4 linked regions of the Homo sapiens genome follow. The protein of the gene in region 3 purifies or fractionates together with the protein of the main gene of each other region. This does not show direct contact. Each region holds a gene or a part of one and is shown on either strand. Other genes may lie near its edges.

What was found.
Region 1: the proteins of BCL2L14 (region 3) and TRAPPC9 purify together in Homo sapiens (affinity purification with mass spectrometry; 4 studies listed by BioGRID and IntAct, with this or other methods). This does not show direct contact.
Region 2: the proteins of BCL2L14 (region 3) and TRAPPC10 purify together in Homo sapiens (affinity purification with mass spectrometry; 4 studies listed by BioGRID and IntAct, with this or other methods). This does not show direct contact.
Region 4: the proteins of BCL2L14 (region 3) and TRAPPC6B purify together in Homo sapiens (affinity purification with mass spectrometry; 4 studies listed by BioGRID and IntAct, with this or other methods). This does not show direct contact.

What each region holds. Positions count from the first base shown.
Region 1 is NC_000008.11:140,447,722-140,454,748, reverse strand, and holds part of TRAPPC9 (trafficking protein particle complex subunit 9), read left to right. Parts: intron 1-3,365; coding exon of another isoform or gene 3,366-3,375; coding exon 3,376-3,959; intron 3,960-7,027. UniProt on the Homo sapiens protein: Functions as an activator of NF-kappa-B through increased phosphorylation of the IKK complex. May function in neuronal cells differentiation. May play a role in vesicular transport from endoplasmic reticulum to Golgi.
Region 2 is NC_000021.9:44,007,949-44,015,318, reverse strand, and holds the start of TRAPPC10 (trafficking protein particle complex subunit 10), read right to left. Parts: upstream 3,011-7,370; 5' UTR 2,826-3,010; coding exon 2,759-2,825; intron 1-2,758. UniProt on the Homo sapiens protein: Specific subunit of the TRAPP (transport protein particle) II complex, a highly conserved vesicle tethering complex that functions in late Golgi trafficking as a membrane tether.
Region 3 is NC_000012.12:12,066,643-12,073,964, forward strand, and holds the start of BCL2L14 (apoptosis facilitator Bcl-2-like protein 14), read left to right. Parts: upstream 1-4,296; 5' UTR 4,297-4,495; intron 4,496-4,760; exon of another isoform or gene 4,761-5,013; intron 5,014-7,322. UniProt on the Homo sapiens protein: Plays a role in apoptosis.
Region 4 is NC_000014.9:39,147,309-39,153,355, forward strand, and holds the end of TRAPPC6B (trafficking protein particle complex subunit 6B), read right to left. Parts: intron 4,532-6,047; coding exon 4,438-4,531; intron 3,074-4,437; coding exon 3,042-3,073; 3' UTR 506-3,041; downstream 1-505. UniProt on the Homo sapiens protein: Component of a transport protein particle (TRAPP) complex that may function in specific stages of inter-organelle traffic.

The sequences.
Region 1 (7,027 bases), on a different chromosome or scaffold from region 3:
CAGGCTGGTCTCGAACTCCTGACCTCAGGCGATCCACTCGACTTGGCCTCCCAAAGTGTTGAGATCACAGGTGTGAGGTCAGGTTGTGTTTTTTTTTTTTTTTTTTTTGAGAGGGAGTCTTACTCTTATTGCCCAGGCTGGAGTGCAGTGGCGTGATCTCGGCTCACTGCAACCCCCATCTCCTGGGTTCAAGCGATTCTCCTGCCTCAGCCTCCTGAGTAGCTGGGATCACAGGCATGCGCCACCACGCCTGGCTAATTTTTTGTATTTTTATTAGAGACCGGGTTTCTCCATGTTGGTCAGGCTGGTCTCCAACTCCTGACCTCAAGTGATCTGCCTGCCTCCGCCTCCCAAAGTGCTGGGATTACAGGTGTGAGCCACCACACCCGGCTGATTATGCTGCTTTTTAGATGAGACGATAGTTTTTATTTTTAAATCATTTTTATTTATTAATTTTTTTGAGATGGAGTCTCGCTCTGTTACCCAGGCTGGAGTGCAGTGTTGTGATCTTGGCTCACTGCCTCCTCCACCTCCTGAGTTCAAGCAATTCTCCTGCCTCAGCCTCTGGAGTAGCTGGGACTGCGGGTGTGTGCTACCACTCCTGGCTAATTTTTGTATTTTTAATAGAGATGGGGTTTTGTCATGTTGACCAGGCTGGTCTCTAACTGCTGACCTCAAGTGATCCTCCCGCCTCTGTCTCCCAAAGTGTTGGGATTACAGGTGTGAGCCACCGTGTCTGGCCGAGATGATACTTCTAAAATAAGGCCCTTTGTTACCTGCGGTGGGCCGCGCTCTCCTCCTCTGTAGAATGAAGGCTTCGGTGTTTCTCAGCTTCTGTTAAACCTGTGCCTACTTTTGAGAAACATGAGCGCTCCAGTCTCCCCCGCTCAGTATTTTGATATGTCCTCCGAGGGGTTTTATGCCTCTTTGTTGGAAGGTGATGTGATTTTGGTTCTTTCGAAGGTGGTTTTTGTGTGCAGAAAAGACTCTTTAGGGAATCGTTGTGGGGAAAGGGCAGGAGAGAGTGGGGCGTCGTCCTTGAGAGCGTGAGCACTGGAGTCAGGGACTTGGGCTGAGTCACACACATGTAATATACTTGTGAACCGTTTAGATCCTGGGCAGAAGCAAGACATGTTGGGAGGCTAGGGTTTCCTTTTTTTAAAATTTAATTTTGTTCATACTTCTCTATCCATGTGTATTTTTGAAGTCTGTAGAGGTGGGGTTGTGATGTCCAGGATAGCCCCCGACACACAGTCCTCCTCCTCTCCGTGCAGGTGAGAAGCTTGCCATTAGAATTTCACAGAGGTCTTATAGCAATGTCACTTTAATCTTAGTGTCACCTGGGAGGGTTTTACTGCCACGATCTCTGCAGTCAGGCTTTGGTGACCTGAAGGTTATGCAGTTTTGGGCTTCCTATTTAAGAAAAAGAAAACAAAATTAAAAATGCAAAATTAGATAGAGGGCCATGGAAGGGGCCTGAAGCTGAACCCCATTAGCTCATGGTACAGCTGCCTCTGGCCATGGGGACCATGGCCAAATCCCCTCAGGAAGTGTCAGCCCACTGATGGGGACAGTGGAGGTGTGTATCGAGGCATCTTTTTCTTATTTGATACAGAGAGCTCATTTAATCTCCCTAACCTTTAAAAAAATTAGACTTTTTATTTGAGACTATAGTAGTTGTAGCTCCATGTGCATTTGTCAGAAATAATACTGAGGGATCCTATATACCTTTTGCCCAGTTTCCCCCCGTGGTGCCATGTTACAAAACCACAGTATGTTATCACAACCAGAATGTTGACTTGCTGACACCTTGAGGTATGTGTTACTATCCTCATTTTTATTCACAATGAAACTAGGGTTCAGGGAAGCACACAGGCTTGCTCCAGGTCACCCAGATCGTGCGTGTAGAGCTGGGAGTTGAATATCGGCCCTGACTTCCAGGCAGTGGGATTTCCATCATGACCGTCTGTAGGCTGGGGGCAGCATTCATTGGATTGTTCATTTGTTTGTTTGTTCACTAATCCCTTCAACAAACATGTATTGAGGATCTCCTATGAGCCAGATTCTTTCACGTGGGTCATCTAATTTAATTTTTCCCCAGCTCTGGGGAATCAGGTAATAACGTTTTCTTTTTATATCTGACAAAATTGGCTCAGAGAGGTTATGGCAACTCTCCCATTTATAAAGGAAAGGTGGTATATTTGTGTAATCTCTCCTTTTATGTTAGGCACAATGCTAGGCCCTTTACATTCGCAACCTCCTCAATCTAGATACAGTTTTATAAGGCAAGTTCTTTTTCTTTTAATTCTTTTTTTTTTTTTTTTTTTTTGAGATGCAGTCTGGCTCTGTCGCCCAGGCTGGAGTGCAGTGGCGCCATCTGGGCTCACTGCAAGCTCTGCCTCCCTGGTTCATGCCATTCTCCTGCCTCAGCCTCCCAAGTAGCTGGGACTACAGGTGCCTGCCACCACGCCGGGCTAATTTTTTGTATTTTTAGTAAAGATGGGGTTTCACCATGTTAGCCAGGATGATCTCGATCTTCTGACCTTGTGATCTGCCTGCCTCAGCTTCCCAAAGTGCTGGGATTACAGGTGTGAGCCACTGCGCCCCGCCTCTTTTTTTTTTTTTTTTGAGACGGAGTCTCACTCTGTCACCCAGGCTGGAGTGCAGTGGCGCAATCTTGGCTCACTGCAGCTTTCACCTCCCGGGTTCCAGTGATTTTCCTGCCTCAGCCTCCTGGGTAACTGGGATTACAGGCACGTGCCACCACACCCGGCTAATTTTTGTATTTTTAGTATAGGTGGGGTTTCACCATGTTGGCCAGGCTGGTCTCGAATTCCTGACCTCAAGTGATCCGCCAGCTTCGGCCTTCCAAAGTGTTAGGATTACAGGCATGAGCCACCATGCCCGGCCAAGACAAGTTCTATTATCACCACTATTTTGTAGCTGAGGAGTTCCAGGGAGCCCGGAATTCAAATCCAGATGTGATTGCATGGTGGATTTTTCTTAATATCCTGTTGAGGGGATGGGGGAGCAATTACACACGTGTTTATTCATTCACTCAACAGACATTTTTGAGCACTGACTCTTACTACTCCTGGTTAGGTGGTGAGAATAGAAAGACAAGAAACAGCCCCATTTCTGTAGAAGCTCCATGCTGAGGCCAAGGGACTGAAGGTCAACAGTTACAGCATTATGATCAGAGCTGCGACAGCCACGTGTAGAGCCCTAAGACCTGTTGATGCCACGGCTTTCCTTGGGGCTTCCCCTGCCTCTGGGTAGTGAAGGTCACAGTCACTGCCTCCCAGGGTAGGCTCTCAGCACTCAGGACTCTGTGTCTCACAGCCTCATTTCTTCTCTCTGAACAGGGACTTCAAAATGAGCGTCCCTGACTACATGCAGTGTGCTGAGGACCACCAGACGCTGCTCGTGGTGGTCCAGCCTGTGGGCATCGTCTCCGAGGAGAACTTCTTCAGGATCTATAAGAGGATTTGCTCTGTGAGTCAGATCAGCGTGCGGGACTCCCAGCGAGTCCTCTACATCCGCTACAGGCACCACTACCCACCCGAGAACAACGAGTGGGGTGACTTCCAGACCCACCGCAAAGTCGTGGGCCTCATCACCATCACAGACTGCTTCTCGGCCAAGGACTGGCCACAGACCTTTGAGAAGTTCCACGTGCAGAAGGAGATCTACGGCTCCACACTGTATGACTCCCGGCTCTTTGTCTTCGGGCTGCAGGGGGAGATCGTGGAGCAGCCGCGCACCGACGTGGCTTTCTACCCCAACTACGAGGACTGCCAGACGGTGGAGAAGAGAATCGAGGACTTCATCGAGTCACTGTTCATCGTGCTGGAGTCCAAGCGTCTGGACAGAGCCACAGACAAGTCTGGGGATAAGATCCCCCTTCTCTGTGTCCCGTTTGAGAAAAAGGACTTTGTAGGACTGGACACAGACAGCAGGTAAGCTTACCTAGAGACCCAGGCCCCTTGGCTTCCCTGCATCAGAAAGGGAAAGCACAGGGCAGAATTTCATTGCAGCAAGGAGTAGAAAGGTGTTGTCCATTGGTTTTTAAAACTAATGACTTTCTGTCAGAATCTGTTTGAGTGCTGCTAAAAAAACCAACCAAACAAAAACCAGTGACTTTTAAAGACAGAGACAGCCTTTGGTTGGGGGAGTCCTTTAGAGTTGTCTTGTACACTCCCCTCTTTTTAGTGGGGCTCCCCTCGTGGGACTCCTGGAGCTCTGTCCCATACAGCAGCCACAGCCAGTTGTGGCTTTTGGGCACTAGACACGAGGCTAGTTTTAGTTGAGATGGGCTGTGAATAAAACCCACGCCAGATTTTGAGACTTACTTCTGAAAAAATAAACTTTCTTGCTAATTTTTTTTTGAGACAGAGTCTTACTCTGTCTCTCAGGCTGGAGTGCAGTGGCGCGATCTTGGCTCAGTGCAACGTGCACCTCCCGGGTTCAAGTGATTCTCATGCCTCAGCCTCCCAAGTAGCTGGGACTACAGGCAGGTGCCACCATGCCTGGCTAAGTTTTGTATCTTTAATAGAGACAGGATCTTGCCACGTTGGCCAGGCTGGTCTTGAACTCCTGGCCTTGAGTGATCTGCCTGCCTTGGCCTCCCAAAGTGCTGGGATTACAGGTGTGAGCCTCTGTGCCTGGCCAACTTTCTTGCTAATATGTTTTATACAGATTACATGTTGAAATGATAGTATTTTACATATCTTAGGTTAAATAAACTATATTTTAAAAATCAGTATCAACTGTTTCATTCTTACTTTTAAAAATGTGGCAACTAGAAACTGAAATGTACTTACGTGGCTTGCATTTTATTTCTGTTGGACAGCACTGTGCTAGAGCACAGTTTGAACAGTTTTATTCAGTCTCGTCCCTTTGGTTCACAGATGAGAGGGTGAATCTGGAGAGGTAAGGGCTAGGTCCTAGCTGAGCTAGAAGTAGAGCCCACGTCTCCGGATTGCCAGGCTGTGCACCCTGCGTATGTGGCTACTTTTTCCCTCCTGATGGCCACAGTGTCGAATTCCTCACTTACAAAGCAGCCAAGCATGGATATCAGGATGCCAGAAATACCACCTGGGAGCTCCTAAACAGCTACCGTATACAAATGAAAAGTATGTCTGTTCTCTCTGTGTACAAGGAGTGTTGGATAGAGCAGGAAAAGGTCAGCTTCCCATCTTGCCTGTTATTAAGTCAAAAACTTTATTTCAAATCAAAATTGCAGATGAGCTCTTCCTTGCCACTTCCTTCCACTCTCTGCTTGCTGCTGTGTCTTGCCATGGTGGCTGTTCTGCAGAGCTGGATGAGATGCAAGCCTAGGCAGCAGCTGTTTGCCAAGAGGGCGTCCCCATTTGCCAGGGAAAGTGATGTGTCACTGTGTCAGTCACTGGCCTCCTGGCTTGGACAGGGCTCTCCCTCCTCCTGTATAGGATTGGCTGATGAGCCACAGGTGAGGATTCAGTGATGTAAGGTGCATGCCACCATAGTGCCTGCTGCAAAGTAGGTGCTCAGTATGTTTCTGAAATTTATCTAAGGTCACACGGTGTCGTTCTGGTTGTTGGTAAGTATGAGGAGAGATGATCACAGAATTGAGACACAGTAGTCTTAAATCCAGCCCTCAGAGTTGGAAGCATGGAATAGCCTCAGTCGCACCTGCCTGTGGTGCTTTGCAGGGTCTGGAAGGAAGGAATTTTCATTTCTTCACCCAAATGTGCATATTTGGCTTAAGGAAAGGAAAAGGCATGCTGTAGACCTGCTCTGTGTTTAATCCTCACGGCAGCCCTGTGATCTACACGGGGTTGCTGTGCTGGCTGATGTGGGGCTGAGGCAGCAAGGTTTAGAGACCCGGGCAGCCACCAAGCAGCAGAGCTGATATAAGCACCAGGTCTGTCTCTGAGGCCCGGGGCCTTTCTACCTCACCTTGTTGCCTTCTGCTGCGCCTCCTGTGCCTCGTGAATAGCGCACACTGCTGTCCAGCCAGCAGGCACTGTGGGAGTCATCCCTGATAAGGTGTTGCTGTATGGTGTGCACAGCTTGGCGGCCACCTGCCAGGTCGGCAGGGAGTGGCCTGCCCCTGCTTTACAGAGAAGGGGTGAGGGGTTGAAGCTCACAGGCAGCATGGGTCAGGAATCCTGCTCTGACCCCTTGACTCATGCCTTCCTCCTTTGCCACATGGGCATCAGTGACATTTTTCAGTCATCCACTTCTTGGCTGTGAGGTTGCAGATCCACCTTCAAATGCCAGGTCTTTTTTGCCTTTTGAAATCTGAGCTCACAACTCTGCAGGAGGAGCGGGAGTGTGCTGTGACGCAGTGCGTCACGCATAGTGGATAAGGACTGACAAGTGTTTGTTAGAGCCTTCATATGCCAGGCATGGCTCCAGGCACTGAAAATACAGTGGCACATAAAGCTGCTTGCTCACTGTAGTGGGACAGCCGCAATTAGACATCAGTTAGCATTTGAACTTCAGTGAGATAATGACACCAGTGAACTCAAATCAAATACATCCTCCTCTCATAATGGGTAACCTGTTGTTGCTTTTGTTTCTCCATGGTTCTCTAATTTTTTTTTTTTTTTTTTTTTTGAGATGGTGTCTTGCTCTGTCACCCAGGCTGGAGTGTGGTGGTGCAGTCTCGGCTCACTGCAACCTCCACCTCCTGGGCTCAAGCGATTCTTTGTGCCTCAGCCTCCTGAGTAGCTGGGATTACAGGCGTGCGCCACCACACTCAGCTAATTTTTGTATTTTTAGTAGAGACAGGGTTTCACCATGTTGGCCAGGCTGGTCTCGAACTCCTGACCTCAAGTGATCCACCTGCCTCGGCCTCCCAAAGTGCTGGGATTACAGGTGTGAGCCACAGTGCCTGGCTGGTTCTCTAATTTTTGAAGGAATGCTTTGGTGCAGGAACAAAGCCTTGTCTCCCCTGCAGCTCTTGGTAGGAGTGAGGAAGTGTCCAACCTGAAATGGGGTGGTATTTTGTAGCTCAACAGGAAATGTCCAGATGTAAGGC
Region 2 (7,370 bases), on a different chromosome or scaffold from region 3:
CAGTTTTTAAATTCACCTGAACCAGTTACATTCTATATTCTTCCCAGAAAGGTCTAAGCAGAATGCATTTTCACTGAAGTAAAATATTATACATTCTATGGAAAAAAAATTCACAACATGCATAAACTCTACTTTCATTTTAAAATGAACAGATCTGAGGTAATACCATTTCAAGTAAGAATTTAAAAGATTTTTGAAAACAAAAATGTTGCCTACTAAGAGAACTATGTACATAATATTAAAAAGTTAAGGGTTAATTAGCCTCTGGGTGGATTTTTTTAAAGCAATTGTTCATACCACCTTCTCCTTTCAAAACATGTATAGCTGAAAGAGAGGAGCAAGATGAAGGCATAAAGTGAAACCAGGCCAAGTGCTTCCTAAAGCTTCAGTCCCAGATATACCACAACATAATTTCAAGTGGGAAGTATGAAGTCAGCTTTTTACCTTCACTTTTAAAGTGATCATTTTTCAAGTTAACTTTGACAGTCTACTGAAGCCCCCTTCTCTTCTGAGACTCCAATGAATGAAAGTTTGCACCTTCTAGGACAGTGTACCATCCATGCAGAGATTAACATTCACTATGTTGCTTGAGGCCAAGGGTGGGGGCTCAAGCCTGTAATCCCAGCACTTCGGGAGGCTGCGCAGGTGGACAACCCAAGGTCAGGAGTTCGAGACCAGCCTCACCAACATGGTGAAACTCTGTCTCTACTGAAAAAAAAAAAAAACAAAAACAAACAAACAAAAAATTAGCCGGGCATGGCAGCATGCGCCTGTAATCCCAGCTACTCGGGAGGCCGAGGAAGGAGAATCGCTTGAACCCGGGAGGCAGAGGTTGCAGTGAGCCAAGATCATGGCCGAGATCATGCCACTGCACTCCAGCCTGGGCGACAGAGAAAGACGCCGTCTCAAAAAAGAAGAAGAAGGAAAAAAAAAAATTCACTCTGCTGCTCAAAACACAGGAAAAAACCCACCACCAAGATGACAATCCAATAAATCTGTAGGAAAGAAAACCGCATCCTTCAGCTGTCCGTGATGCACGCATGTACAAAACTAAACATTAAATATCTCCAACACTGGCAACCAGATAACAAACTTTACCCCTTTAGTTATGGTTGAATCCAATAGAGCTTAGGAACTTTCTCCTCAGAAATGTATTTACATAATGCCTATAAATACATATTGCTATTGAAATGTAAGCAAGCTAGGAGGTAGAAGATAAAATTAGATGTGTGGATGTCCGTACAGGCAATGAATGTGTATCCAGCATTCACAACGTGCACAGCACTTTAGGAGAAAAATGTTCAACCTCTGGAAGACAGTAAAACTTAACATGAACTGCGCATGGCTTCATCTTCCCTGAGCACTGGGAAAGCCCCTGGGAAATTGCAGGGCCTGCAGACCAGCTCTACCCACATCTGCCCTCTGGGGCTGAAGGTGCAGAGTAGGAAAAGACTTTCAGCTGACAAATATTCTGGGGAGGAAAAAAGACAGCTACTGCTGAACTATGCAAGTCTCCAATTTTAAATGAGACACAGTCCACTTCCCTAAGAAAAGTCTATCATCTCGTCTAGGTCTCTGTAGAAAAAAAAGAGAGAGGAGGAGAGGAGAAGAGACAAAATAAAGCAAAAGGAAGGAAAGAAATAAGTCTATCACCTAAAGCTGAAGCAACAAAATTCAACCTTCAATATACAGTTTCTCAGGGATCTAACAGGAAGGAACACAGCAGGTGCACACCCGCTGACAGAGTGAGAGGGAAACAGGAGTTCTCACGACATACAGTCTACTGTGGCCTGGGCACCCAGATTTTGCAACAGAGAGTGCTTCCTTTCCAAGCACGAAAGACAACTAGAAAAAAACTAACTGCATACATGCATGAAAATACAGAATACTGTCAAAGGTCAAAAATCGTAACAGTCTGAAACACCTCTCTGCAAGTCACCTAAAAGCCAACCAACAAACATTTCAATACTTCCCATAAGCTCACTGTTCTTAACCGTATTTAACTCTGGAGAGTCACACTTCTAAAATTTAGGGAACATTTTTCCCGTAACAGAAAAACAGTTCCTTTGTGTATGCATTAAAGGAGGGGTGCGGGGAGGACACGACACCCAAGAGGCACCAGGTGTCCGTAGTGTAGACTCGAGCGGGAGGCTGTTCATGGGGAGCAAGCTCGCCTAAGCGCCCGAGCCTCGGCTTTCTCATCCGTAAAATGGTTTGAGTGCGCGGCGGGGAAGTGTGTAGGAGCGAAAGCAGTCCCGGCGGCTCTGCCTGACGCTTCACCCCGCAACAAACTGTTCCTACTTCGCCAACGCCTGCAACTCTGCGAGCCCCCAAGGACTTCCCCGTAGTCGGGGAAAGGGCGCCCGCGGGCAAAACCGCCCGGCGGAAGAGGCCGGGGCCCCCAGGTCCCGGGCGCGCGGCTCAACGGGGGCGGGACGGGGCGGTGGCAGCCCCCGCTCCTCGCCCTCGACGCCGGCGCGCGCCCAGTCCCGGGCAGAGTCCGCCGGGTTCCACCGGCTCCAACTGCAGCCGGCCCGAGGGCGCCCCCCAGGGGTCAGAGGTCGCCCGGCGGGAAGGTCAGAGGGCGTCCCCGAAAAGTCAGAGGGCCCCGCCTCAGCCGCAGCCCTGGTCACACCTCCAGGAAGCGGCCCAGCCCGGAGCGCGCCGGGGGCTGAAGGTCTGGGGGCGCCGGGTGCATAACGCCAGGGCCCGGGCCCGCCCAACGACCGCCGCGCCCTCCCCGCCTCCGGGCACTCACAGGTGACGATGGGCTTGTTCTCCATGGTGTAGATCACCGGCGGCAGCGGCTCCTCAGAGGCGTCCATGGGCGTCCGGCGTCACCGGCCCGGCCCCCCGCGCCCCATGGGCAGCCCCGAGGCCGCGCCGGGCCCAGCCGGAGCCCGAGCCTGAGCGGCGCCGCCCGCCCGGCCGCGCCAGGCAGCTCCGGAGCCGGTTGCGCCGCAGCTGCCGCCCGCTGCTGCCGGCCTCAGCCACTTCCGGCCTCGGCGCCGCCGCATGACCATTTCCGGGGCGCGCGAGGCTTCACGGGGCGGGTCTTCGCCGCGCTTCGCCTCCGACGGAAGTGCGCCCGGGCCGGCCGCGCGGGACCGGGAGGTGGGAAGTGGGAGGCGGAGCGGGGCTCCCGGGACACGTCCATCTTCCTCCCTCGGCAGTGGGCGCCCCGCTGGGCCCTGCGCCGGAGCTGAGGCCAGGACTCGGCAGGCGGGCCTCGCGCGCGGTGAGCGAGCCTGGACGCTCCCGGACCAGAGACGCCGGCCTCGCTGCCCTCGCGTTCCCCGCAGCTCGGGCGTCCCGCGGCGGGCCGCTGCTCCCCGGCCGGGCTCCTTATCGCGCTGGGGGCTCCCGCAGGCCCTCGCCGCTGAGTGTCCCCGGCGCGTGCCTTCCGCCTACCGCTGGGCTCTTCCCGTTTCCCTCACGCCGCAAATGTTTTTGTGGGGACCTGGCCCTCGGCATTTCGGAATGCCACAAAATAAACCTCACACTTAACTGCATATGGGCTTCTTGTGCACGTAAACGGGGGGGGCGGGGCGCGGGTGTTTCTTTTTCTTTTTTTCTTTGGAGCAGGGTCTTCCTCAGTTGGCTCAGGCTGGAGTGCAGTGGCGGGACACGGCTCACTGCAGCCTCCACCTTCCAGGCTCAAGCGATCCTCCCGCCTTGTTTCCCCCCGCCCCACCCCCTCCGCCAGTAACTGGGACCACGGGGGCAGCCACCACGCCCAGCTAATTTTTTTCTTTTCTTTTCTTTTGTCGGGATCTCACTATGTTTTCCAGGCTGGTTTCAAACTCCTGGGCTCAAGTGATCCTCCAGCCTTGGCCTCCCAAAGTGTTGAGATTACAGGTGTGAGCCATCACTCCCAGCCATAAAATGACAAAAACTGTCAACCAAAAATAATCAAAAGGGTCAGAATCTAGAGTTTAGTCAAATGCGAAGCTTGAGGCGCCCAGGAAACATTATAAAGAATGGAAGTCAGTGTTCTCAAACGTAGAAATTTGGGGTCGTTTCTATAGCCAGCGTCTCGGGAAGCCTAACCGAATTTCAGCGTCTTTTCTGTATAAGGCCTAATGCATAGTTACAACAGTCTGTTTAGTCGAGGTGGTCTTTTTCTTTGGGGACCCACTGAAGATGAAACAGTCCTGGGGTCTCTGTGCTGTCTGGTCTAAGTCAGGTACAGGACAATGGAGACAGCTAATCTGTAACAAAAATCACCAAATGGGAAGGGGGAGACCTGGTCTTTCTTAGTCATTAACAGCAGCAGTCCCCAACCTTTTTGGCACCAGGGACCAGTTTCATAGAATGCAGTTTTTCCACAGACAAAGTTGGGGTGGTTTCAGGACGATTCAAACACATTTCATTTATTGTGCACTTTATTATTTTTATGTTGTAATATGTAATAAAATACAACTTCCCATAATGTGGAATCAGTGGGAGCCCTGAGCTTGTTTTCCTGCAACTGGACGGTCACATCTAGGGATGATGGAAGCCAGGGACACATCATTAGGGATGAGATTCTCATAAGGAGCACGCAACCTAGACCCCTCCAATGTGCAGTTCACAACAGGGTTCACCCTCCTAGGAGAATCCAGCGCTGCTGCTGACCTGACAGGAGGCGGAGCTCAGGCGGTAATGCCAGCGATGGGGAGCAGCTGTAAATACAGATGAAGCTTTGCTCCCTGGCCTGAAGCTCACCTCCTGCTGTGTGGCCTGACCGGTATGTGTCTGTGGCCCTGGCGGTCGGGGAGCCCTGATTTACAGAGCAGCCACAATGAGGAAGACACTTGTGCTCAAGAACAAGGAGGAAGAGCATTAAACTGTAATCGAAGAAGCAGAATTGCAAACTTGCTACTGACTCAGTCTCCAGGGCTTAACTTCACCCTTGGCATCATAAGTTTAGAGAGTCCTGAAGTTTTTTTTAACAAAATGTATATATGAGATAGTTTGGGTGTGAACACAGCTGCTAAATGTGTGAACATAGTGTAGTGTGGTGCACTGTAATGGTGTGAGAGGCAAGAGACCAGACTTCTGGGCAGCTAAAGCAGCAGGCCGGCAAGGCAGGGCACTGGAGGGGAAGAAGCTTAGCAAGAGTGGGGAGCCGAAGTCGATGTAGGGTTCCCTGAAAGTCCTTGGCCTAGGCTGGACTACACGTGTGGGACGACTCTATGGGTTTACCAGGAAGCGGCTGTTACAGAGTTGAGGATGGCACAAAGACTAGAGGTCCAGTAGTGCTACAGGAAAGGACTTTCCGTTTTGTTTTCTTTTCAGACAGTCTTGTTCTGTCACCTAGGCTGGGGTGCAGTGGTTTGATCGTTATCTCAGTGCAGCCTAGAACTTCTGGGCTCAAGTGATCCTCCCACCTCAGCCTCCCAAGTAGTTGGGACCACAGGTGAGTGCCACCACGCCCGGCTAATTTTTTCTTTTTTTGTAGAGAGAGGGTCCCACTCTGTTGCCCAGGCTGGTCTTGAACTCCTGGCCTCAAGCAGTCCTCCTGCCTAATCCTCCCAAAGTGCTGGGATGACGAGTACGAGCCACCGTGCCCAGTCAAGACCTTTTTAATGCCATTAACACTGAGGACATTGAGCTGAGACACTAGATTGAGAATCACATTCCCAGGGGTCAGCAAACGACCTATAAAGGGCCCAGATAAGTATTTTAGGTTGTGTGGGCCACATGCAGTTTTTGTTTCATATTTTTGCTTGTTTTTTTTTTTTTTTTAAACAACTCTTTAAAAATATAAAAGCCATTCCTGGCTTTAAGTGCTGTACAAAAACAGGCCATCAACACATGTGGCTTGTGAGCCAGAGGTTGCCAGTCCCTCCCCTAGAATAAGGACTACTCCAGGCCCGCCTTAACAACGTCTAAAGCAAAACCCTGACCCGATCCACAAGACGGTCAGAGTTTGGAGGTTAAGTCCTGCCAAGTAAGAGGGGCCTGGGAGACACCTGGGACATTGCTCAGTAAACAGAGCCTAAAGCTAAGCCTACACAGCCCAGCATGGTACGTCCAGTAATGGAACTACAAACTAGAACGAAAGTCAGGATTTTTCAGTGGAAGAGCACCCTGAGTCTCCCTCATTTGTTATTTATCAGTGTTGAATATACACTAAAAAAACAAAAATCACTAAACATACAAAGAAAGAGGAAAACGTAAGCCATAGTTAAGAAAAAAAAAAAGCAGTTAACAGAAACCAATCCCCCTACAATGAACCAGATTCTGTATTTACAAAGATTCTAAAGCAGCTCTACATATGTCCAAAGGAGGCTGGGCACGGTGGCTCACACCTGTAATCCCAGAAATTTGGGAGGCCGAGGTGGGCAGATCACTTGAGCCCAGGAGTTTGAGATCAGCCTGGCCAACATGGTGAAACCCCATCTCTACTAAAAACACAAAAATTAGCTGGGTGTGGTGGCGCACGCCTGTAGCCCCAGCTACTCGGAAAGCTGAAGCAGGAGAATCGCTTGAATCCGGGAGGTGGAGGTTACAGTGAGCCAAGATAGTGCCACTGCACTCCAGCCTGGGTGACAGAGCAAGACTCCATCTCAAAATAAATAAAAATAATATGTCCAAAGGATTAAATGAAAATATTGTCTTAATGAGTAAAGAATCAGAAATTCACAGCAGAATAACAAAGTATCTAAAAGAATCAAAAGAAAAGTCTAGAACTGAAAAGTACAATAACAGAAATGAAAATTTCACTGAATTGGATTAACAGATTGGAGAAAACAGGAGTTTGGGATCTTGAAGGCAGATGGATAGAAATTATTTAATCTGAAGAAGAGAAAAAAGTTGAAGAAAAGTGGAGAGAACCTCAGAGACCTATGGGACAGTATGAAATGGCCAAAAGCATGTGTGATCGGAGCTCCAGAAGGAGAGTATGAGTCTAGGAAGGAAACATTTTTGCAAAATGATGGCTCCAAATCCAAACACGTGGTGAAAAATACTGATTTACAGATCAAGAAATTCAGCAAAACCTGAAGAGAACACATACAAAGAAAATTACATGCAGGCATATCATACTCAAACTGGTGAAATAGATCAAGAGAAAAAAAATGTTTTGGTGGGGGGACAGGGTCTTGCTCTGTCGCCCAGGCTGGCGTGCAGGGGCACAGTCACGGCTCACTGTAGCCTCAGTCTTCTGGCTTCAAGCCATCCTCCCACTACAGCCTCCCAAGTAGCTGGGACCACAGGCACGTACCACCATGCCAGCTAATTTTTTAATTTTTTGTAGAGACGGCAGGGGGTCTTCCCCAGGCTGGCCTTGAACTCCTGACCTTAGGTGATCTGCCCACCTTGGCCTCCCAAAGTGCTGGGTTACAGGCATAAGCCACTGCACCCGGCCCTTCTCATAATTTCTT
Region 3 (7,322 bases):
ATGAAAAGCTCTACCCTGCAGCATTATTTGTAACAGTAAGCACTTGAAGACAAACAAAACATTATTATTATTATTTTTTTTTTTTTTTTTTGAGACAGAGTCTCGCTCTGTCGCCCAGGCTGGAGTGGCGCAATCTCGGCTCACTGCAAGCTCCGCCTCCCGGGTTCACGCCATTCTCCTGCCTCAGCCTCCTGAGTAGCTGGGACTACAGGCGCCCACCACCATGTCTAGCTAATTTTTTGTATTTTTAGTAGAGACGGGGTTTCGCTGTGTTAGCCAGGATGGTCTCGATCTCCTGACCTCGTGATCTACCTGCCTTGGCCTCCCAAAGTGCTGGGATTACAAGCATGAGCCACCGCACCTGGTGACAAACAAAACATTTAAAAATAGTTGGCTGGCTGATTATTTGATTTGATTTGATTTTTATTTTGATTTTTTTGGAGACTGAGTCTCGCTCTGTCACCCAGGCTGGAGTGCAGTGGTGTGATCCCAGCTCACTGCAACCTCTGCCTCCTGGGTTCAAGTGATTCTCCTCTGGATGAATATTTTTAGTGCTATCATTCACTGGAATGATGTCGCCACTAAAAAATTTTATTTACAAAATAAGTTTATTAGAAGTTATGATGGCTGGACGTGGTGGCTCACACCTGTAATCCCAGCACTTTTGGGAGGCTGAGGCAGACAAATATCTTGAGCTCAGGAGTTGGAGACCAGTCTGGCCAACATAGTGAAACCCCGTCTTTATTAAAAATACAAAAATGAGCCAGGCGTGGTGGCACATGCCTGTAATTGCAACTACTCTGGAGACTGAGGTGGGAGAATAGCTTGAACCCGGGAGGCAGAGGTTGCAGTGAGCCGAGATCGTGCCACTGCACTCCAGCCTGGGGAACAGAGTGAGACTCTGTCTGAAGAAAAAAAAAGAATCATCCTGACTTTCCTTATAGAGAGGGGGAGGGCAGAGAGTTTGTCCTGTGTCTCCTTTTTCTCAAAGAAAAGAAGGGACGTCCACCAAATTTTTAGCAGCATTTCCCACTGAATGACTGCATTATGGCAATCCTTATTATGACCCTGTTTTACGAGTTTTCTACAACAGCATGTCTATGTTTACAATCGGGAGAAAAGTGGTTTTTGCTTTTGCTGTTTAATATCTAACATGTGTTGTGACCTGTCCCTGGCCAACTTGTTAGGCGTGGAGATAACATAGTTGAATGAGAGGTGGACAGTTGCTCTCCTCAGCTTCCGTGTGGGGTTTGCCCCTTCCCTGTGTTAATAGTTGCTTTACCAAAACCTTTCAGGACTTTTTTTTTTTGAGACAGGGTCTGGCTCTGTCACCCAGGCTGAGTGCAGTGGTGCCATCATGGCTCATTGCAGCCTCAAGCCCCCGGCCCCCTGCCAGGCTCAAGCAATCCTCCCGCCTCAGTCTCCTGAGTAGCTGAGACTACAGGTGTGCTCCACCACGCCCAGCTAACTTTTTATTTTTTTGTAGTGATGGGGTTATCACCATGTTGCCCAGGCTGGTTTCAAACTCCAGGACACAGTCTGTCCTCCTGCCTCAGCCTCCCAAAGCGCTGGGATTGCAGGTATGAGCCACTGTGCATGACCAAGACTCTTCAGGATCCTAAATGGTTTCAGCAACAAACATTGTTTAGTTATGTAACTCAGAACTCCAGTATGGACATACTATGTGATGTGATTTTATTATTGCTTATATGCTTTTGTGGTTTTATTGTTTGTTTTTCTGTTTGTTTGTTTTGAGACAGGGTTTTTGTTTTTGTTTTGAGACAGGGTCTTACTCTGTCACCCAGGCTAAACTACAATAGCATGATCCTAGCTTGCTGCCCCCTTGAACTCCTAGGCTCAAGCAATCTTTCTGTCTCAGACTACCAAGTAGCTAGGACTACAGGCATGTGCCACCATGCTATGTTGTCTGGCTGGTGTTGAATACCTGGTCTCCAGTGATCCTCCCACCTCAGCCCCCTGAGTAGCTAGCACTACATGCGTGAGTCATGCCTGGCTAATTAAAAAAAAAAAAATTAAGAGATGGGGTCTTACTATCACAGCGTGAATCCCAAAATTGGGGTTCAGTCTGGGAGGCCACATGGGTTCTTGGCTTCCCACAAGAAGGAATTCAAGAGTGAGCCAACAAAGTAAAATGAAAGCAAGGTTATTAAGCAAGTTAAGGAATAAAAGGGGGGCTACTCCATAGGCAGAGCAGTGGCATGGGCTGTTTGATTGAGTATACGGGTATTCCTTGATCATATGCTAAACAAAAAGTGAATTATTCGTGAGTTTTCTGGGAAAAAGGTGGGGAGTTCCCAGAACTGAGGGTTTTCCCATTTCAGACAATATAGGGTAACTTCCAGACATTGCCATAACATTTGTAAACTGACATGGGGCTGGTAGGAGCGAGTGTCTTTTAGCACAACAGTGCATTATCATTGGCATATAATGAGCTGTGAGGACGACCGGAGGTTGCTTTCATCGCATCTTGGTTTTGATAGATTTGGGCTGCTGCTTTACTACATGTCATTTTATCAGTGGTGTCTTTGTGACCTGTACCTTGCAAACCAGTCCTGAAGAACTCTTGTCTCATCACTGTGTTGTCCAGGCTGGTCTTCAAGTGATCCTCCTGGCTTCAGAGTGATCCTCTCACCTCAGCATCCCAAAATGCTGGGCTTGCAGGCTTGAGACACTGAGCCAGACCCTGTTTATTCTTGAATTGTTTCCAGTGAATATATCTCATCGTCTCCCCCCAAAAAAAGGTTGCAAGTTTTTGGCCAGGCGCGGTGGCTCACGCCTGTAATCCCAGCACTTTGGGAGGTGGAGGCGGGCAGATCGGGAGGTCAGGAGATCGAGGCCATCCTGGCTAACACGGTGAAACCCCGTCTCTACTAAAAATACAAAAAAAAAAAAAAATTATCCAGGCTTGGTGGCGGGCGCCTGTAGTCCCAGCTACTTGGGAGGCTGAGGCAGGAGAATGGCGTGAACCCAGGAGGTGGAGCTTGCAGTGAGCCAAGATCGCACCACTGCACTCCAGCCTGGGCGACAGAGCAAGACTCCGTCTCAAAAAAAAAAAAAAAAAGGTGGCAAGTTTTTATAAAAAGAGAAAAATCATTCTTAGTATTTCTTTAATACCCTCTACATTGACCTCACTGGTGCAAAAAATATTAGTTTGCTGGTGAAAATTCACCTCGAGTTACTAAATATCTAACTTTCCCATAACTACCATCTGTTTGTCTCTTGTGGATCTGTTTGCCTAATATTTAAATGACCCATTCTTCCCCACTTTTACGAAAATAGCATTAATTCCCCTTTCACTATTCACACTTCCTTCATCGTCACAGTTTGACCAGCGGTCCAGGGTTTATGATCTCAAGCATGGCCATATATATCTATTTCACTTAAGACTCTGGAAAGAGCATAAAATCAGATGTAACTGTTTCCTATTTCATATAATAGGGAATTCCATCTCTAAAGTTATGACATTTGGCCTTTCAGTGGGTTTTTGTGGTTTTTACTATGGCTGTGCTTAGATTCCTTTTTGAACACTTTTCCAGTGGTTCCACTTGAACACAATCTTTGAGTCACATAGGAGAGGTGACATGATAGAGTGTAAAGCCAGAAAGAGCACGATTTGGATCTCAGCTCAACTGATAGGGATCCGTAGCAAGATACTTCACCTCTCTGAGCCTCAGTTTCCTCATCTGTGCAATGGGAATCGTAACGCCTGCCTCTCAATGTTGTTAAGATTAAATATGTTGGCCGGGCGCAGTGGCTTACGCCTGTAATCCCAGCACTTTGGGAGGCCGAGGAGGGCAGACCACCTGAGGCCAGGAGTTCGAGACCAACATGGTGAAACCCCTGTCTCTACTAAAAATACAAAAATTAGCCAGGCGTGCTGGTGCAAGCCTGTAATCCCAGAAACTCAGGAGGCTGAGATATGAGAATCGCTTGAACCCAGGAGGCGGAGGTTGCAGTGCGCCAAGATCGCACCACTGCACTCCAGCCTGGGCAACAGAGTGAAACTCTGTCTCAAAAAAAAAAAAAAGATTAAATATGTGTACAGTACCTGTACCATGTTAGGCGGTCAGTAAACATTTGTTTAACTAACAACTGATAAGGATAGTAAAGAAGTATCAGAACACCCACCTAGTTATCCCAAAGGGCAGGAAGAGTGCTAGGTAATGGATATAGAATTCCTTTTAGAGTCAAATTACACGGGCAAAGATCAGCCCCTCCTTCAATTAAAAAGCCAGGGGCAGGGCGTAATAAGGAAGTGGTTCTCCTTCTTTAAGCCTCTTTTCAGGCTGAGTCCTAAACCTGAAGAAAGTTTAGAGCCTGGGGCTCTAAACTACCTGAGTCTTTCCAAACGACAAGCCAAGAAGACCTGTTGAAAGTTTCCTCTTAAGTTTCGTGGAGAGAGACTCAGGTATAGAAATATCCTTACTGCCACCTGACCTGAAGCAGAAGAAATCACAGACAGCTTCCAGACCAGGTAACACCAGGAGGCACCAGTCTTCATCCTCAGCCTTTGCAGGAGGACACAGCCTGGTCTTTAGCTGTTTGCCAAATGAGGCAGTCTAATTCAGGGAGCTCTTTACTGGGTTTATTACAAAGTTCTTATCATGTAAGTCTCAGGACACAAAATGACATTGAGAATCTAGTTTAGCGGGGTTTCCAGGAAAGACGAAGAAAGGTTATTTAGGTTTCTCTTTCATTTCTCTTTTGCTACAAAGGGTTTGGGACATTCAGTTAAGAACACATTACTGGTTGAGGTATGTGACGTTACTCAGTCTTCTCTGCTTATGTATCTGGGGAGGTATGCAATGACATGACAGCCATTCCGTGGCCAGGGACACCACTGCCCAAGCTGGAGACCACGAGGATTCAGGGACTGAAGCCAGCATGGGAATTCCTGGTTTGAGATCAGAGTCCTGAGTACCTCGTGGGAACTTGGGCACTCATCCGCAGGAGGTCTAGACCCCCAGAGAATTCCTTGAGTCTAAGGCACAGGTAAATGGAAGACCCTTCTCTCTCCTCTCTCCCCTCTAGAAAGCTCCCTCCTCCCTGAGCTCCCTGTCCCCTTCTTTCCACAATCAGAGCCTCGGACCTTCTGTTTGGTGAATATGACCTGAGGCTCTGTCTAGCATTCAGCTTCTATTGTGGGAAGTTAAGGCACTTTCTCTCATTCCTCATTTCACCTTTAGTATTAAAGAACAGTCCAGGCAGAAGGCACGAAGAGCCTGAGAGGTCTGAAGTGAGGGGGAGAGGAGAGGGGCAGAAGGGGAGGCTCCGGACAACAGAACCAAGCTGAGCTTAGGATGTGCTGTGGGAGGCTCCGTGGGGATGAGTGTCAGTGCCCACGAGATCCACTCAGGCCTCAACTGTGTGTCCTGAGCACATGAAGTCAGCTCTTCTGCTGGGACAGCCACCAAGGGATTCTCCACACCCCTCACCGCTGGGACAGGCAGAGGCACAGCGAACCAGGTGTCCAGCGTAACTGGGGCACTGGGTGGTGGCCGCCTCTGTGTGTGGAAACACGAGGTGCTTGCTGCAGTTTCCTCTGTGTGCTTATCCGTTAGCTGCCACCCACCGGGAGGGAAGTGAAATCTCACCTCAACAAGTGAGTCCGCAGAGCGAGAACCGTGCGACAGTGCGTCTGCCAATACCTGGAATGTAGGTGTTCGTTGCAGTGTGGCCTTCCCAGCCGGCCTCTCAGCACACCCGGCCAGGCAGCCAGTGTTCCCAGAGGACACGCTGGGGCCAGACGTGGAGGACCCCGGCCACCTCGGGGAGGGAAAGAGACCAAGAAAAGAACCTCTGTAGCCTTGCTTCTGAGAGTGCAGGTTTGTTACAGGTAAGGATCAGGAAGGTAAACATAGGGCAGTGAAGCAGGGTTGTGTCCTCTGCGGCCCTGAATTAGAATAAGCCTCACAGGTCTCACCCAGGAACGGAAATCTCCCCTCCAGGTTCTGAACCAGCATTCAGAGGCCCCACCCAGGGCTTCTGTCAACATAAGCATAAAACTTATGGTTTACCTTTCCATAAACCCCAAAGTTGGGCTTCTTGTATAGAGTACAATTTCTGTAGGAAGAGCTGAAAGCAGAAGGGATCTAACCTGTGATAATACTCGATCGCTGCTGCTTGAAAGTAAGACTTAGCTATACACTGAACAATCAAGTAATTTATAACAAGGATTAGAGGAAACAAAAACTCTGTGTTTGTGTGGGTGGGTTTTTTTTTTTCTTTATTTTTGTTTCTTAAGAGAGTGTCTCCCTCTGCCACCCAGGCTGGAGTGCACTGGCGCGATCATAGCTCACTGCAGCCTCCAACTCCCAGGCTCAAGCGATTCTCCCCCCTCAGCCTCCCAAGTGGCTGGGACTGCAGGTGCACACCACCACGCCCAGCTAATTTTTTTCATTTTTTGTAGAGACGGAGCCAAGGCTGGTCTTGAACTCCTGGGCTTAAGCGATCCTGCTCCCTGGGCCTCCCAAAGTGCTGGGATTACAGGCGTGAGCCACTGGGTCCGGCATCTACATTTGTTAAATACATTAAAACCCTCTTAATCCTTTGTCTCCGTTTGTTCTCTTTTGCTCCCTGCTCTCCAGGCTCTTGTGGCGGAGGCCCCCGCTCCCTCCGCTGTAGGGTAGCCTCCTTCTGGGGCTGGCTCCTGAGCACTGTTCTTTCTCCTCTCTCTCATCCTCTCTCATTCTTAGCTTTGCCTGTCGACTGGGCCAAGTCACAGCCTTTCTGGCCTGTAAGACAACAAAAATCTCACATTTTACTAAATGGAAGGACTAAGTACTCTGTCTTGACTTCAGTGGTTTCCCCGATTTCTGATGTTGCTGCTGAAATAGCATTAGCAAGCTTGTTTCTTAAAGAAGCCCTCTCTCCAGTGACAATACTCCCCCCGCCACACACACACACATGCACACGCACACACAAACATGCATGCACGCGCACACACACACACAATTTTAAAGCCCTCGTGTTATATTAAAAAGGTCTGGATGTTTTTAACATACATGGAAATTTCTTCAGCAGCACAGTGTTACTGGTCTGACGAGGGCGCACAGCCTCCTACCCAAGGACACAGTTCCTGAAGGACCAGGGTGCACATCTGGCCTGCAGTGCCCTGAGCCACTCTGTCCAAAAGGAAGCCTTGAATCAAAAGCCTCATGAATCCTCTCCTGAGAAATTCCATGTCTGGTCTCTTGCTAGACTCAGCCTTTTCCCCACCAAGTCTGCCGCACCTAATTCTGACCTCACCCTGCTTGGTGGCCCGCTTTGCCTGCTTGCACGCACCTCAGGTCTCAGTGTGT
Region 4 (6,047 bases), on a different chromosome or scaffold from region 3:
CCATTTTAAGTTGATTTCTTTTTTTTTTTGGAGACAGAGTCTCACTGTGTCGCCCAGGCTGGAGCGCAGTGGCTCCATCTTGGCTCACTGCAACCTCCGACTCCCGGGTTCAAGCAATTCTCCTGCCTCAGCCTCCCAAGTAGCTGGGACTACAGGCGCCCACCACCACACCCAGCTAATTTTTGTATTTTTTTCAGTAGAGACAGGGTTTCACTGTTTGGCCAGGCTGGTCTTGAACTCCTGACCTCATGATCTGCCCCACCTCGGCCTCCCAAAGTGCTGGGATTACAGGCTTGAGCCACCACACCCGGCCTTAAGTTGATTTCTATGTATGGCATTAAGGCAACAATCCAATTTCATTCTTTTGTATGTGGATGTCCAGTTTTCCCAACACTATTTGTTGAAGAGATTTTACTACATTTCTTTGTTTTATAGTTTTCCTTTATGATTTCCTACATTTGTGTGTTGGAAAGGCCTTCTCCACCACAAAATCACGAAAGTATTATCACATTTTCTTTAGTACTTTATTGTTTTACAAGTGAACCTTTAAGTTTCTCCCCACCTACTCCCGCAGAAAAAGGCATATTCAATTGTCCCATACTAATTTTTGAATAACCTAACTCTCCCTTTGTTTCTACTAAGAGAGGTTTCTTTTTGGCTACAAGTAACAATATACATATACCCAAAGCAAATGGAACAATATAAAGAATATCTCACATAACAAAAAGTCCAAAGGTAAAGCAGTTCCTGGATTGGTTAATTCAGAAGCACAATTCAGGTGCTTTCTATCTACATCCCACTATTCTCAGTGTGATAGCTTTCATCTCCATACTTGTCCTTTCATGGCCATCAGAAGGCTGTTGCAGATTAGCTTCAAACATCCATATCACATATCTTCACTGAGAAGCAGAAGAGGGATGCTGGCAAATCCCTAACTTGTATCAATTGTTAAGAGCAACAGAAAATTTCTTATTCAAAGCCTTCAGACTTCCTTTGTCTCGTTAGCCTAGATTCCATCAAATGATCAAGTAAGCCAATTACCATGATTGGCACAGAATCTAATCAACACTCACCCTCTCTAGGCTAGGGAAGCACCCTATTCTATAGCACAAGGCAGCCATACAGAGTTTTAGGCCAAAAAAAAAGAAAAAAAAAATGGGGCTTTGTCAGCAAGGAAGGGAGAACGAAATGGCTGATGGGTAGGCATATGAATGTCTAACAAACCAACTTATTTGAACCCAGCTTTTTCACACACACAATTCTCACACCTGTTTTATTTTGAAGTTCTCTATTGTGTTCTATTTTGATCTACTTCTGTGTCATTAGCTATTCCTGGGTCATTATGACTTTTAATAAACTTTATACATGTATATTTGGTAGGAACTTTCCTAAATTTTTTCAAAATTAAAATTTTTTCCCCAAAACATGTGAGAATTAGGATTGCAGTCATGCATTGCTTAGCAAAGGGGATACATTCTGAGAAATGCATCATCATTAGGAGATTTTAAAATTGTACAATCACAGAGTGTACTTACACAAACCTAGATGGTATGATCTACTATACACCTAAGCTATGGCCTATTGCTCCTAGGCTACAAACCTGTACAGCATATTATTGTAGTGAATACTGTAGGACACTGTAACACAATGGTAAGTACTTGCATATCTAAACATAAAGAAGGTACAGTAAAAATACAGTATTGTAATCTTATGGAACCACTGCCATATATGAGGTCTGTCACTGACTGAAACATCATTATAGGGCACATAACTAGAATTTAATAAATCAAGTTAAACAAATTATCTTTGTAATACTGTACCCTTCCATGAAAGGAAAATGGTATGCTTCTAACTTGAGTTTTCTTTAATGTCCTAAAGTACATTTTTATAGTTTTTATTTTGTGTTTTTAATATAATGTTTGGTATAGTCAATCTTCTTAATCTGCCATTTCTATGGCAGAGTACCCAGTGAAACATCTTGTTTGGTGTGTCAGTCACCCCCTGCTGCAGAGTTCCCTGTCACACAAATACATGCAAAAGGGTAATAAATAAATGGGAAACAAAGTATAGTTTTAGTAATCAACATGCAAGATTCTAACAAAAGCTGGAGATAACTGCTTATGCCAGATAATTTAAGTAAGAGAAAGTAAGTAGAAGAGGTGGTAAGAAAGATATATCAGATGAGCACTGACCCCAAACCACTAAGATGATATGGTCCAAAGAATGTCAGAATGACTAATTCAATTATCCAACTCTGCTCAGCTGGAAGAGGAAAGAAGGGAATAAAGATGTTAGATCCTTTACCAGGACTTCCATGCACGGGGAGAGAAGTTGAAAGTCAAAACTGTAACAGGAATAAATACAAAAATTCTTTCCAAACATACCTAATATTCTTTGGCCCTAGAGTCACTGAATTCACATTTAAACTAATCTATATTTCATTTTGATTACATTAATGGAGCTCTGAAGGAATGAAACCTATTAAAGAAAAATTAAATTTATAAACAATTTAGGCAGTCATATATGTATTTATATATACACACATACAATGTATATATGAAATCCTTATACAGGTGTAAACATTCTTAATAAATTATAAGCAATAAAATAAAAAAAATTTAGTATGTTTGCTTTTTAAAATAAAACAAATTCATACTTTATCAAAATTTGTTCATTCTTCTCACAAATAATTCTGTTGGTACATAATTTTCTCTCATGCTAATTCAACAAACCCTGAGCTTTGTTTCTCCATCTATGGCTAAATACATATCACTCTAACCAAATAAAAAGGTTTAAAATAAGGGCCCTGCATCTTGGTGTCTGGTTATTTGAAATCCGGTTTTCATTTTGAATAGTTTTGGTTAAGTGTATGTCATGGCAGAATGTCCCTTCATCTCCTTTGATCTGTGTTAAATTGATAAAAATACATGCTTACTCCTGTACAAACATCGAACAATGTAATTAAATCATCACTACTTGAAATACTTTTACATGAATAATTTATCTCTTTACACTGTTGAAGCCTTGCATTTCAGTATGTTCTACAGCTTCTGTATCATCACCTGAAATTTGCCTAAAAAAAAAAATACAAATAATTCTTTGATTTTAGATACAAAGAAAACAAGTCTAAACATCAATTTTCTGTTCCATATAGGAAATAGTTTCAGTCAAGAAATCTGCTATGTCAAAAACTTTTTCGCATTCTTCATAATATTCAATAAAGTCAATTCTATTTTTTCTTTTTTTTTGAGATGGAGTCTTGCTCTGTTGCCCAGGCTGGAGTGCAGTGGCACGATCTCTGCTCACTGCAACCTCCACCTCCTGGGTTCAAGTGATTCTCCTGCCTCAGCCTCCTGAGTAGCTGGGACTACAGGCGTCTGTCACCACGCCCAGCTAATTTTTGTATTTTTAGTAGAGACAGGGTTTCACCTTATTGGCCAGGCTGGTCTCAAACTCCTGACCTCATGATACGCCCACCTCGGCCTCCCAAAGTGCTGAGCTTACAGGTGTGAGGCACCACACCCGGCCAGTCAATTCTATTTTTATGGGATGATTATATGGTTTGTTGAGTAAGCACTTTTGTTTCTCTTTATGAATCCTACATTTGGGTACAGTATTTCATGGCTAATGATCATTGTAAATTGAAAAGAAATACAATAAAGCTCAAGTCCATTTTTTCTTGGTTGGTAGCTCTGGTGAAAAGATCTTTAGGGAGACATTTAGTGATAAAAGAATATTTGGTTTTACTTAGCTTGATATAATAGACATATCCTAAACAATTGTTTAAAAATAGCATTTTCGGGCCGGGCGCGGTGGTTCATGCCTGTAATCCCAGCACTTTGGGAGGCCGAGGCAGACGGATCACAAGGTCAGGAGATGGAGACCATCCTGGCTAACACGGTGAAACCCATCTCTACTAAAAATACAAAAAATTAGCTGGGCGTGGTGGCAGGCAACTGTAGTCCCAGCTACTCGGGAGGTTGAGGCAGGAGAATGGCGTGAACCCGGGAGGTGGAGCTTGCAGTGAGCCGAGATTGTGCCACTGCACTCCAGCCTGGGCAACAGAGCGAGACTCCGTCTCAAAAAAAAAAAAAAAAAAAAAAAATAGCATTTTCAATGTTCTAGGGAAATTTGCTATCTTAAAACACTGCAGGAGATATTCAGAAGAATATCTTTAAAAAAGTTACAGTTTGAATAACTTTAGAAAAGTTAAAAATCATCCCTTAAATTGTCTTATAAATTTGGATTTTAGTCCATTATTCAAAAATTACTGAAAATGAATGTAGTATGCTACATATTACTACACTAAAGTGTTACATTGATAAAACTAAAATGAAAGTTTCAGCATTTTAAATTTCCTCTCAGTTAAATTAAAAAAAAAAACAGACCTGAAAACAAATTACTAAAACATTTGTAAGAAAGGCGAATTCAACTTACAAGCAGGCATTGAAGACACTTCAGCTGTTACAATACTTTTTATTCCCAAGTTTGATAAGCCACCTCTGATTAAGCCACACGTAAATGCTAAATACTAAAAGGAAAAAAAATCATTAAAAATAGTAAGGATTTACTAAAATAGTAAAGCTATTGATAAATACAACATTACATGATTTATCATCAGTAAGTCATTCCTGTTTAAAAAAAGGATTTTGAAGAACTGTTCAAATTACTGAAAAATATTGATATATTTCCCAGCTCCCTGGAAACTAAAGCATGGACGTAGGACTTAAGACTTAAGCTCAGCCAATTAAGTACTCCAGTCCAGGACTGTGAATCTAGACTCAGTGACAAAAACAAGCCAGAAACTGATCAGAATTAGTTCTGGAGGCAGTAAAGGTAGTTTGTGTCTACAGTCCCTGCTGCCTGCAGGATTCTAAGTAGATACAGTCTGCAGAGTGACTTGGCTATCTTACTGGCTGCCTTAACCTCCCCTGGTTATTGCCTATTCTTTGAGCTTATCAATTTTGTTAGCTTACAAGCAGAATTTCTTTCCCCTATTTACAACCAAGAATCTTGACTTGTTCAAGACTTATAGCTTGCCACAACAAAGAATTATCTGGTTGAAAGTATCAACAGTTTGGACGTTGAGAAACCCTGTCATATAGAAACAAAGAAAGGGAATAGGGCTGAGCTACAAAACCAAAAGTCATGACAAGAACTGGATTGAAAAATTAGCAATTCAGGGAATTTTTGATTACCCACATCTATACTGCATGATGTTCAACATACTACATTATCTACGAATAATATAAAATATTATCTTATAAATAATATACATAAATGGGCACTAATAAGTAACTAGATCTGAGTCATGAAATTTTAAGCTGGAAGAGGCCTTAGAGATTGTTCATCCCAAGAGTTCTTAATCGGGGAATTTGTGACCCCTATGAAAATAAAAACCATGTATATGTGCGTATTTATGGGGAAAGGTGTTCCAGTTCTCAAAGATGTCCATAACTCAAAATAGTTAGAAATCACTGAATTGGTCCAACTTACTCTTTTCACAGCTGAAGAAACCAAGATCCCAAAAAGTTAAGTGAGAACCAGAAATATTAAACTAAGAAGTTAGTAAAAAAGAGAAAATATGCCAGGCATGGCCTATAATCCCAGCACTTTGGGAGGCTGTAATCCCAGCATTTTGGGTGGCTTTTGTAATCACGTCTGTAATCCCAGCACTTTGGGAGGCTGTAATCCCAGCATTTTGGGTGGCTTTTGTAATCACGTCTGTAATCCGAGCACTTTGGGAGGCTGAGGTGGGTGGATCACGAGGTCAGGAGTTTGAGACTAGCCTCGCCAACATGGTGAAACCCTGTCTCTACTAAAGATACAAAAAATTAGCCAGGCATGGTGGCGCACACCTGTAATCCCAGCTACTCAGGAGGCTGAGGCAGGAGAATCACTTGAACCCAGGAGGCAGAGGTTGCAGTGAGTCTCACACTCTGTCCGAAAAAAAAAAAAAAGAGAGAAAATATACACATTAACCATAAAAATGTAATTAGAGCCTGGATACCCCAAAAATATAGAAAATAGGCAATCAGGCCGGATGC